Regions from separate parts of the Homo sapiens genome. Here all the other regions are linked to region 1. The links come from fine-mapping of genetic effects on gene expression. A gene starts in region 1. Each other region holds a variant in brackets. All regions are shown on one strand. Distances are from middle to middle.

Region 1 (4,098 bases):
GGAGTTTGAGACCGGCCTGACCAACATGGTGAAAGCCCGTCTCTACTAAAAATAAAAAAATTAGCTGGGCACTCGCCTGTAATCCCAGCTACTCGGGAGGCTGAGGCAGGAGGGCAGGAGAATCACTTGAACCCAGGAGGTGGAGGTTGCAGTGAGCCAAGATCGTGCCACTGCACTCCAGCCTGGGCAACAGAGTAAGACTCCATCTCAAAACAAACAAACAAACAAAAAAACAAAAAAAACCTAAGGAAAAAAATAGCAAAAAGTAGCCAGGCGTGGTGGCACATGCCTGTAGTCACAGCTACTCAGAAGGCTGAGGTGGGAGGTTCACTTGAGGCCAGGTGATGATGCTGCAGACGGCTATGATTATGCCACTGCCCTCAAGCCTGGGGAACAGAGTGAGACTGTTTCAAGAAAAAAAAAATGGAAATAAAGTTTTTTGTGATTGGTTGATGTCTCAAGTCTGTTTTTTCTTCAAAATGTTTAACTGAAGTATAATATACATATAAAAGCTTGCAAATCATAAATGAATGTATGGCTCAACAAATTTCCCAATCTCTTTTAATCTATAGATTGACCATTCCCCTCTTTTTTTCCTTTGGAATTTGATAAAGAATATATTTGTCTTGTACCGTTTCCCACAGTCTGTACTTTGCCAATTGTTTTTCATGGTGTCATTTAGCATGTTCCTCTATTCTGTATTTCCTGTAAACTGGTGGTTGCATCTAGAAGTTCAGCAGGTCAGGTGAATTTTTTTTTTTTTTTTTTTTTTTGACACGGAGTCTTGCTGGAGTCCAGCCCAGGCTGGAGTGCAGGGCAGGTGGCGTGATCTTGCCTCACTGCAACCTCTGCCCAGGTTCAAGTGATTCTCCTGCCTCAGCCTCCCAAGTAGCTGGGATTACAGGCATCTGGCACCACACCCGGCTACTTTTTGTATTTTTAGTGGAGACGAGGTCTCACCGTGTTGACCAGGATGGTCTCAAACTCCTGACCTCAGGTGATCCACCCACCTAGGTCTCCCAGACTGTTGGGATTACAGGCGTGAGCCACCGCAACGGCGTTAAAGCGTCTTTTGAAGGTGGATGTGATTTTTTTTTTTTTTTTTGGGACGGAGTCTCGCTCTGTCGACCAGGCTGGGGTGCAGTGGCGCGATCTCGGCTCACTGCAAGCTCTGCCTCCAGGGTTCACGCCATTCTCCTGCCTCAGACTCCCAAGTAGCTGGGACTACAGGCGCCCGCCACCACGCCCGGCTAATCTGTTGTATTTTTAGTAGAGACAGGGATTTCACCGTGTTAGCCAGGATGGTCTCGATCTCCTGACCTCGTGATCCGCCCACCTCGGCCTCCCAAAGTGCTGAGATTACAGGCGTGAGCCACCGCGCCCGGCCGGTGGATGTGATTTCTACAAACAAGCAAAAGCCAGTCAGACTGAATGTAGTGAATAATGTAGGTGACCCAGCTGGAAGATGATGGTTTGACGTGGAACACAAGGGGTGATGAGGCCATGAATGATTTGCTTGTGTGTCTGGTAAACTGGCTTTGATGGAAATTCCTAAACAGGTCCAAAAACGTTCTGTCCAATGGCAGCATGAAATGTACAGCCACTCAGGGTGACTAATGTGAACGGAACAACAGTGACTTTGACAGTGAAATTGCATGTTGGTTATAAAACCAGCTTTGCTGTGTGGGTGGGCATGCGAGGTGCCCCTTTCTAGTCATGAGCTCCTCTTAAGGACCCCAAAATGTCTCAGTGGTACCGGATTGAAAATTGGGGCTGGACGGTGCTCTCCTGCTGAAATTCGGGAGCTACTTAGCAGCCCCACCTTGGCACCCTCGTTTCCGAGGGGCAGGCCCTGGGCGCGCGTCTCAGTTTCAAGCCCGCGGCCCGACACTAGAGCCGTCTGGATGTGTTGACAAGGATGCCGCTGGGCTCCACCCGGGCTCACCCGGGCCCTCCCGAGCCCTGGGCCGCGCAGCACCGGCGTCCGCCTCCTCCCCATTACTCGGCGAGAATGCGGTCGGGGCACTGGCGCGAGCAGCCTGGTGCTCCTGAACAGTCAACAAGAAATGAGGAAGCACGGGGGCAGCCGCCAGGGCGACCAGAGGCAGGCCTCAGAGCAGCAGCCATACGGGAGGGCCCCGGTGGTTTTGACCTCCCGCAAACTTCCCTTTTCCCGCTCAGCCGAACCCCTCCCCTGCACGCCGGCAGCCCCTTGGGGCTTCACTCCGCCTCCGCCCGCTACTCGCGAAGCCCAGCCCGGCCCCGCCCCCAACAAGTGACGCAAAACTGGGAGGGGCCACGAGGACCTCGGGCACATCCAGCAGTGCGACGGGGCCGGCGCCTTCTCCGAGCTCCTCCCACGCTCGCGGGTCGGAGCTCGCGCCTGCGCAGTTCGGGCCCCGGGTGTCCTCCCCCCTCCCCTTTCTTAGCAACCATCGCCCGCTCCCGCCCCCGCTCCCTCGGCCGCGGCCGCGCACGCGCGCCCCTCCCGGCGCCCGGCCCCGCCCACCCCGTCACCCGTAACAACCACAAGTGCCGTCGCCGCGCCCCTTCCCCCTCCCGCCTCCCCGGCCCCCTCCCCGGAACCGGCGGTCGAGCTACGGTCGCGGAGCAGTGGAACCGAGACTGCCCCGCGGAGCCGCCGGTATGAGCGCCCCTCGCCACCCCGTGTCCCAGGCCCGGCCTTTCTGACAAGAGGTAGGCGCGTCGTCGCGGCGGGTCCGAGTGCGCCCTCGCCCCGGTCCCGGTCTCCGTGGAGTCCGGCGCCTCTCGGGCGGGCCCCCCGGAACTCCCGGCCGCCCGCTTGCTGAGCCTGTCCCTCCCCAGCCCCGGCTGCCATCGGCCCGGCACCCGAAACGGGCCGTGCCCCCGCCCCCCTGCTCGCCCTCCGCCCCCCTGCTCGCCCCTCGCCGCCCCTCGCCCCCCTCCCCCGCCCCCACCCCCACCTCGCCAGGCTTCCAGTTCCCGGGAGCCGCTTTTTGCTGAGAGCGGAGTTTCGGGTCCGGAGCCAGTGCCCGCCCCTCTCTCCCGTCGGTCGGGGCTTTGGCCCCGTGGGGCTCAGCCGCGCGGGACCCCTGCTGAGCAGCCCCGGGCGCCGGCCGCCCCTCGAGCCTGCTCGGGATGCGTTCAGTGGGTCTGGCCTTTGGCTCCTGTTTAAACAGCGATTGTCATGCAATGGAGGCCGTCCGGCTCCTGGATGCCACTTGGTCGTTGTCACTCCGGATGCCCGCGTAGGGCGTTTATCTGGACCAGAGCATCGGCAGCTGAGACCTGGCTGTGGTTCACAAGCTCGTGAATTAGCAGGTTCTTAAGTGAGTGTAGCCAGTTCTGCCAGGCGGTGGAATCCTGAATGGATGTTACCGTTTCTTAAACGAGCATTACGCTTTTTTGCTTCTTCCCCCAACTCTTGTTTGTACCCGGTTATCGTCCTCATATCTGGGAGAGTACCCTAAAATTAATATTCCCAATTAAATTTTTAAAAGATGATTGGATTCCCACTGTGCACCAACACTGTAAGGTTTGCAAAAGAAAAAGAACGTGGTCCCAGCACATCAGGATGTGTCAGTCGCATAATCAAGATGAATATTAGAAAAGCTTCAAGTTGAGTTTGGAGAACTTGGGAGTTTGGCTCTCATTCTCATGGTTTTAGAGGTGGAAGTCTTTCAAGATCATCTCCCCGAAAACCTCATTTTACAGAGATGAAACTGAGTCCTAGGGAAGTCAAATGGCTTACTCGTGGTCACCCAGAGTCATTCCTTAGCCGTTTTCACACTGTCAGATGGCGATGTTTTCCACCATGACCTCTCCTCTGAGAGGTATGCCAGACATACCAGAGAAAGTTCCAAACCTGTTTAAACCTTAGTACTATAGATGGGAATTCTATACCAGGCGCCGTGACTCATGACTATAATCCTAGCACTTTGGGAGGCTGAAGTGGGCAGATCCCTTGAGCCCAGGAGTTTGAGACCAGCCTGGGCAACATGGGGAAACCTTCTACAAAAAATATATATGGTGGTGCGTGCCTGTGGTCCCAGCTACTTGGGAGGCTGAGGCAGGAGGATCACTTGAGCTTAGAAGGTGGAGGCTGCAGTGAGTGGA
Region 2 (4,098 bases), 73 kb after region 1:
CATTCTCACGTCCGCCCCCGCCCAATCTTTGAAACTAACTTTGATTATTCCCTCCTGGGTAGCTCTGTCGGTGCTGTGTAAGTTTGGTTTTCAATTGGTTCTCAGCACCCAGGGGGTGACCACCTCAACCCCATCTCTACTATGCCAGGGGCTCATCCCGCTCACCCAGCCTCGCCACTGTTCTCTCGTGTGAGCCTCACACGGCAGGCCCGGTTCCATGCCCCTGCTTCCCCCTTGCTGGGAACGCTGTCCTCAGGCTCCCCTGCCTGCTCTTTCTTTAGCTTTCACCTTCTCCAGGGCCTTCTGTTCTGTCCAGCCCAGGGCAGTCCTCTGAACCACTCATGTACGAGCTCACAGTGTTTGGTGTTTCTAAGACCTGGCCTCTTAGAGTGTGTGTGAAGATGGTGTATGGGAGATCTTGGACCTCTAGGTGCAGGTCACAAAGAACACAGAGCTTGGTGCATGACATGTAGCAGGATCCAGCGGTTGAATGGATGGTGGTGTGTGACTCTGGGGAAAGAGATCCGTCCATACGCATTCAGCGTTTCCCTCCCCAGCTTCAGCACCTGCACCCTGGATCCCCTGGAGAGCACGATGCGCTCGCAGCATGCCGGCCTGGTGCTCGTGGATCGTGGCTGCCTAACGCTGCCTCTTTTTCAGATTCTCATTCAGATTGTGGATGCCTCGTCAGTCATCACTTGGGATTTCGACGTGTGCAAAGGGGACATTGTGTTTAACATCTATCACTCCAAGAGGTCGCCACAACCACCCAAAAAGGACTCCCTGGGAGCCCACAGCATCACCTCTCCGGGTGGGAACAATGTGCAGCTCATAGACAAAGTCTGGCAGCTGGGCCGCGACTACAGCATGGTGGAGTCGCCTCTGATCTGCAAAGAAGGAGAAAGCGTGCAGGTAAAATCACACACAGGTCAAATCGCGCATCCGTGACTCCACACGGCCAGGTGATTCTGTCTTGAGTAGACTCTTTGCTTCGCTCCTTGAGCAGCCCTGTGTAGCTTTTGAGGCCCTGCTTGTGGAGGAGCAGCTTGCCTGGAGGAGCAGGAAGCCAAGTGGGTCTCGTAGGAAGGAGTTCAGGCCTCGCAGTGGTTTTGGACAGAATCTGCGACTTTTCCCAAAAGCAGCCTGTGACAGGAAGGGAAGGCATCGCACGCACGGGCCCAGCTGGGCTTCATAGGATTTTTCCCCCCCGCCTCATTTCACCGGGTTGTGTTTGTCTTTTTCAAAGGAAAATCACCCTAAATAGAAGTAAGAGGGACAAGTACTTAGAGAACTATTAGCTCTCATTACCAAACCTTCTAATTTGTTTCAAATGCTTTCAGTTCCCTTTTCACATTGTGGCTGGTTATTTTGGGTGCCTGTGCTCACAGTAGCCTCGGGGCGGGGGCATTGCTTCTGGCCTTCATAATAGATGCATCGTTTTGCTGCCTTTACAGTTTTCAGGGGTAAGGCTTGTCAGTGTTTCAGTGGTCTTAGAGGCAGAGTAAAAGAATCCTTTGTCCATTTTAAAAACAATGAACAGCTAAGCTGTGTTAACCAGTCATGAATTTCGGAGAGAATGGAGAAGGAGCTTTCCACGGATTGACGGCTCACTTTAGGGTGACGTGCCTTCAGCCCCGAACATGCTGGATGATTGGCAGCATGTCAGAGAAAGTGAGGCCAGGTCCAGGGAAGCTGTGCTGAGCCCTCCCTCCAGCATGGGTGCCACCAGCCTGCCAGGCTCCTGCCTCCGTAGGTGGGGTGGGCTGGGCAGGCCTCGTGAGGGCCACGGACATGGAGCTTGTCCCTCCGGGCTTCCCAGCACCCGGGAGTGACCACACTCAGTAGAGGGAAGGACATTGTCAAACCTGCTGCTGAAGCAAAATAGCAGGTTCTGAATCCCATTGAGATAGTTTCCGTAGCTACATGAAATCCTAAAGACAGTCCCCTTGGCGCTTGTCAGGCCTGTGGTAGGCCAGGGGTCGGAAGCGAGTCGCCCTCAGCTGCCACTGCCCTACTTGTTCTAGGGTTCCCATGTGACCAGGTGGCCGGGCTTCTACATCCTGCAGTGGAAATTCCACAGCATGCCTGCGTGCGCCGCCAGCAGCCTTCCCCGGGTGGACGACGTGCTTGCGTCCCTGCAGGTCTCTTCGCACAAGTGTAAAGTGATGTACTACACCGAGGTGATCGGCTCGGAGGATTTCAGGTGCGGCCACCCTCGCCACAGCAGGTGCTGCGGACAGCTGGGCATGGTTGGAGGGAGCCTGCAGTCCCACGCCGTGTGCAGGATCAGCAGTGGCGGCGGGTGTCAGGAATGCTTGGAGGGCCAGGAGG[G/GA]AGTGGCTTTGGGGTCATTTGTTGGCACGGTGACTCCCTGCCTGTCTGCAGAGGGAGAGTGTCGGAGACAGAGCCGACTGACTGCCTTTGCTTTAGCTCACACTGCCGTCTGCGTGCAGGCTGTGGGAAGCCGGTCCCCCTGGTGGGTTACTCATGTCCATCCCCCGTTTGCAAGCACTGATGGGGATGAGAAGTGAGCAGAGAACAGGGTGGGCCACGAAGTCCAGCAGGCAGTGTGGGCCGGCGGGTGGTTGGCAGGGTGGTCCTCACGCCTCGCCCCTCCCTGTGCCATTACAGAGGTTCCATGACGAGCCTGGAGTCCAGCCACAGCGGCTTCTCCCAGCTGAGTGCCGCCACCACCTCCTCCAGCCAGTCCCACTCCAGCTCCATGATCTCCAGGTAGTGCCGCGCTGCCTGCACCTAGTGTGCAGAGGGGACGGCCGCCCCTCCTCGGACAGCCAGCTGCACCCGCCCACCCAGCGGCGACATTGTACAGACTCCTCTCACCTCTAGATAGCAAATAGCTCTCAGATGGTAAACGTAGTCGTTTGATCCCAAAACTACCTTGGCAGGTAGTTTTAACTCTGATCCTAACTTAACTCAATAGCCATAGATTTTGTATACGTTGTGCACAAAATCCAACCAGAGCGCAAGGGCTCTCTTGAAAGAAAAGTAGTTTCTGTACCAATTAAAGGATTGACGTGGTCTCAGATATTGATGCAAAAAATTTTTCCAACGAACTCCGCATTGTCCATTAGTGAATGAATTCCTGTGACATCCTCCAGAGATGGCCCCTCCTCACCTGGGACGGAAGCTGCCAGCTCGCTTCCCCCAAGCTGCCTCATGGCCCGCACGCCGCCTCACGGCCCCCATGCTTCCCGCCAGTCAAGATGGTCTGTGGACTTAGGGCCAGCCCTTGAGGTCCTTATCCTCTGAGGATTCAGAGGTTGCCTGCGGAGTACCTTGTCCCAGGGCCAGACACACCCACACCACCCACTGTCCTGCAGTGGGGCCGGGGGCTCAGGAGGGGCTCTCAGGGACTCCTGGTGACTCCAGGAAAATGCTGCCATCGTTAAACATTACTTTCTCTTTCCTCCTTTTCAAATCTTTTTGATACTTTTTAGAGCAGGATTTTTCTGTATGTGAACTTGGGTGGGGGGGTTCTTCCCGTTTCCTTCCGTGCGTCGCCCCTCTCACCTGCAGTCAGCTCCCAGCCCAGTGTAGGCCATCTCCTCTGTGCCCTCTGGTGGCTCATTGTCCTCAGAGCCCAGACAGTTCCAGCCACTAGGAGGCCGTCTTGGAACCAGCAAGTCGCATTTGCCACTTGACACTGTCCATGGGGTTTTATTAGTAGCTAAGCAGCAGCTCTCGCATCCACTTCAGGGTGGCGTGTGGCATGTAGGAGTCCTGCTTCTTTGTACATGGGAATTGTGGACTCATGCGTGTGTGTGTGTGCATGTGCTGTGTGTGTGCATGTGTGCATGACGGTGGGGGTGCTGGGGGGACGGGGTGAGTGGAAACTTAGTTTGAGTAATGAAGGAATCTTCACAGAAGCAAATCAGAATATGGGATTTGTTTGCCTTTTACATTTTGTTTAATTCCTGATTTTAAAGCCTGCTCTATCTGGTACAGGCCCTTATTTTTTCAGCTTTTTATGGGAAAAGCAGGTTATTTGAGAATCTGTCCAGAAGTTGCATAGGGGATGGCCTCCACGATAAGGACATGCAACACGTGTTTCTGTGTGCAGCAGAGGCCGTGTTTTTCATG
Region 3 (4,098 bases), 25 kb after region 1:
GTCTGGAGCTTGCAGTGGCAACTGAGCCCCTTGAGTTCTGCTCTCAGCGAGTATAGAGTCTGTGAAAATCGATGATACGAATTGGACTTACCCTGTCACACCCAACTAAACTGGAGTCGAGGGACCAGGGGAGAAGAAAAGCTGGGACACAGAGCGTCTGCCCCGGGATTATCTTGAAGGCCAGCTGCCAAAGTGACCTGCTGTAACTTTAAGACCAGTGTTAACTCCTTGCTGCTGAAATGAATTACTGTGACTCTAAGACTGGTTCAGTCAGAGCTTGCCAGCTCCCAAAAACTTCACTAGTACCAATGAGTTTTCAAAACAGTATGTCACCTTTCTTTCTTTTCTTTCTTTTTCTCCTCCTCTTCCCTCCTCTTTGGTTTTATACTTTAGCTATGAAGGCCATTTACCAGAGTCAAACTTGTTGTTAACAAGCAGAATTTTTAAGTTCATTCAGAGAGTCCCTCAGACTTTTCTGAGCCTGTTCACTTGCAGAGAGCAGACGCTGTCACCATGTTCTTCGTGTCATGCATTCACATGGATATTCAGTCTTCATATGCTGTCAAGTTTCTTTAAGATCAAAGGAGCGGCTCGCAGCGGGGCCACATAGATGATGACTTTTCTCTTTCTCATAAAACCCCCAGCCTTCCGTTTTTTCTTCGCACATACCGAAGAGCACCTGGTCTTTCTCTATGCCCCAAGTTGCAATTCTCTTTTCCCAAATGAAACTGTTTTAGGGATTCAGCTTTATATTTTTATTTGACCTTGACAAGCCCAGGGTGAAGATGATACTGCTTGGCCTGGAGAGGAGCCTGGGCTCCTGGGTGGCAGCCAGGGATCCTGCCACTGAACCGCAATTTGCAAAATACTTAAAGAACATATAACAGGTCTAAGAACAACATTTAGAGAGTGCTTGTGTGGCAATATCTTGTTTATTGCCCACACTTACTTTGTGGGTAGGCTCTTTCATCCCACTTTACAACTGAGGAAACAGGTTGAAATTGGTTACTAAGTGATTGCCCTGACCTGGCTGCCTCGCCTGCTGACAGCGGTGTGGGCTGACCCGGTACCGTGCCCCCGAGCAGGCAGAGCGCCTGTGCCCACCTGGAGGCCATCAGCCCACGGCGCTCAGGCACTTGGCTTTCATAATTCCCAACAGGGCCAGTTTGCAGTCTTTGCTTTAAAAGACCTCTCTGGGAGTCACTCTGAACCAATTCTGGTTTGAGGGAGGACTGCCCAATTTGGTCAATTAAACTCAATTTTTTGAAAAACCTCCCAATTTCCCCCCACCTCTTTTCCCTTTTGCTCTGTCTGGTGTGATCCGTCTCCCTGCTGGGCAGTAACCCTTTTTCCCAGCGCTCCCCCTTTGTTGGTGGCTTTCCTTCTGTTTGCTTGGACAGGAGGCCTTTGCTTCCAGGTTGTCCAGCTGGGATTCAAATCAAGGTCCATTGACACAAGAGCCCAGGCTCTAATTTGCTCTGCCATATGCCTCCCCGGTTTGTGTCTTAGTCCTAGAATGACAGTGCTGGAGGAGTGGAGGGAAAGGACACTTGGATAGCTGAGTTGCAGACATGATAATTGGGTGGGTGCGGGTGAGGGTGGTGGTGATGCGGAGTGGGAGGAAGTTGCTAGGAAAGCTGAGCTTAAAATAGCTGAAGGCCATAGATACTGGTACAGTGTGGAGTCTGGCAGATAATTGTGTGGCAGAGAAGGCTTTTGTCCTGAGAATAGTAGATGACCTCCCAGAACTGTGGGAACAACAGTCTCATGTTTACATTTATTCAGGCCACAATGGAGCTGAGCAATTCGCTTCCTGACATGAATTCTTTCTCTTCCAAGTAGATCGTGTTTCCTTATTCTGTGGAAAACGTTAATGCCATTAGAAGCCAGATTGAGGGCTACCTGTAACCGGAAACCTCTGCAGAGAACATCCTGTTACTCAGTACCCCTTTTTCTTCATTTATTTTATG[A/T]AAGTTCCCTTTCCACTTGACTGATATTTATCTTCAGGGCCATATTTTCTCCTTCTGTCAACCGAATATAGTATACGTAGCTAATCAATGAATTAGATAACTAAATCCATATATTTCCTCTTCTTCTGTGAACCCCGAATATCTGAGACAGGTCTTAGTTAATTTAGAAAGTTTATTTTGCCAGGATTGAGGACGTGCCTGTGACACAGCCTCAGGAGGTGCTGACAACATGTGCTCAAGGTGGTCAGGGCACAGCTTGGTTTTACTTATTGTAGGGAGACAGGAGACATCAGTCAGTATATGTAAGATGTACATTGGTGCTGTCCAGAAAGGCGGGACAACTCGAAGCAGGGAGGGGGTCTCCAGGTCGCAGGTGGGTGAGAGAGGCAGCCAGAAGCATTTTTCTCAGTGAGTAGAGGGGTGACTTTGAGTGGAATGGGAGGCAGATTTGCCTCCCAGTTTGACTTTTCCTTTTAGCTGAGTGATTTTGGGGCCCCAAGATTGATTTTCCTTTCACAATTTATATGATAAGGGGAGTGTTTTATTCCCAGTGCCTGAACTGAAGTATGATCATTTTTTTTGCCATTATCTTCCTTTGGCCTTTTCTTTTCTCTGTAGAAGGCAGGAGACCTAATATGCTCCTATTTATACCTAGTTCCTTTTTTTAGTCGGCTAATTATTTACTTAAAATAACTGGTTCCTAGCAAAGTCTCATGAGATTTACATCTTGTAATTTTAGGGTCATGAGTGAGATAATTATTTTAGTTTGGTGAACACATGGATTTTATTTGGTGCATTTCCAAAGTTTAGTAGAAAAGATAAATGTCAAATGAAAATGTTTAGTGTTTTAAACTGTTTGCATTCAGAAGGTCCCCCTCCTCATCTTGTGCATAGCTCAGCTGGTTCCTGGACTGTGGGCCTGACAGCGGCTTTACTTCATTGCCAATAGTGTCTTCCTCCTTGAGAGGTTCATGTGTTGCACAGAACAGTAGCCACACTTATTGAGTATTGTACTTATTCTTTGTTTTTGAGATGAGATCTTGCTATGTTGCCCAGGCTGCTGTCGAACTCCTGGGCTCAAGTGATCCTCCCACCTTGGCCTCTCAAATTGCTGGGATTACAGGCCTGAGCCATCATGCTTGGCCCCCTACTTATTCTGTGTCAGGGCCTGCCAAACATTTTATGTTTTCTTATTTAATCTTTCAACAATGCTGCAAGTTGAAGATGATGAAGAAATTGAAGCTTAATGAAATTAAATAGCCTCCCCAAGGACCACTTTTAATGGTGGAACTGGGATTTGAAGCCAGATCTGCCTCTTCTAAAGCCTGTGCTCTGAAATAGAATGGTAACTGGAGTGGGGCAGACCTGGGTTCATATCCTGGGTTCAAATTCTCTCAGCCTCTGTTTTCTCATTTTAAAATGGGAGAAACACTTATGTCATGGAAAGATGAGACCTATTAAGGGCCGGGTGCAGTGGCTTATGGCTGTAATCCCAGCACTTTGGGAGGCTGAGGCAGGTGGATCACTTGAGGTCAGGAGTTCAAGACCAGCCTTGCCAACATGGTAAACACCTGTCTCTACTAAAAATAAAAAATTAGCCAGGCTGGGTGGCGCACACCTGTAGTCCCAGCTACTTCAGAGGCTGAGGCAGGAGAATGGCTTGAACCTGGGAGGTGGAGGTTGCAGTGAGTGAAGATCGTGCCATTGCACTCCAGCCTGGGTGACAGAGCAAGACTCAGTCTCAAAAACAAAAAACAAGAAAAAAACAAAAATAAATAAAGATTGTACCTATTAAATGCAGTAATCTTTGGGAAGCTGATTAGGGTGCATGCGTACTAGGCTCTCCATATATACATGTTGGTTTGATCATCCCTCTGATGTGTTTCTCCCCAGATGAAAGCTCTTCATGGGTAGGACCCTTGTCTTGTGTTCATGTGTCCTCAGCCCTGTGCCTGTTGGAGAAGGGAGTGAATGTTGAATAAGTAATGTTAGAAATTTTTCTAGGTTCTTAAAAGAAGCTTGTTTGTCTTTCTGTTTTCTTTTCTTTTTCCTTTTTTTTTTTTTTTTTTTGAGACAGTTTCCCAGGCCAGAGGGCAGTGGTGTGATTACTGCAGTCTCCACCTCCCAA

The links. PIP is the estimated chance that this variant, and not a neighbour inherited with it, causes the effect.
Region 2: its variant is the best candidate, but not a certain one, in a credible set for the expression of SEC14L1 in whole blood (TOPMed, PIP 0.90).
Region 3: its variant is the best candidate, but not a certain one, in a credible set for the expression of SEC14L1 in whole blood (TOPMed, PIP 0.74).

What each region holds. Positions count from the first base shown.
Region 1 is chr17:77,138,411-77,142,508 of GRCh38, forward strand. SEC14L1 (SEC14 like lipid binding 1) reads left to right here and starts at 2,559. Exons shown (of 17, transcript NM_001143998.2): 1 at 2,559-2,697. It overlaps LOC105371901 (a long non-coding RNA gene), which reads right to left and starts at 3,029. Exons shown (of 5, transcript XR_934988.3): 1 at 2,946-3,029. RefSeq lists silencers at 1,843-2,052, 2,203-2,412, 2,423-2,872, 3,037-3,331.
Region 2 is chr17:77,211,290-77,215,387 of GRCh38, forward strand. SEC14L1 (SEC14 like lipid binding 1) reads left to right here. Exons shown (of 17, transcript NM_001143998.2): 15 at 661-912; 16 at 2,025-2,203; 17 at 2,629-4,098. The coding sequence ends at 2,734. Among named protein-coding and RNA genes, the nearest start is that of LACAT1, 40 kb to the right of the region's middle. RefSeq lists enhancers at 776-885, 1,226-1,275. The variant G/GA (reference allele first, on the strand shown) is at 2,332.
Region 3 is chr17:77,163,126-77,167,223 of GRCh38, forward strand. All of the region lies in intron 3 of SEC14L1 (SEC14 like lipid binding 1), which reads left to right. Among named protein-coding and RNA genes, the nearest start is that of SEC14L1, 24 kb to the left of the region's middle. RefSeq lists an enhancer at 230-731. The variant A/T (reference allele first, on the strand shown) is at 1,971.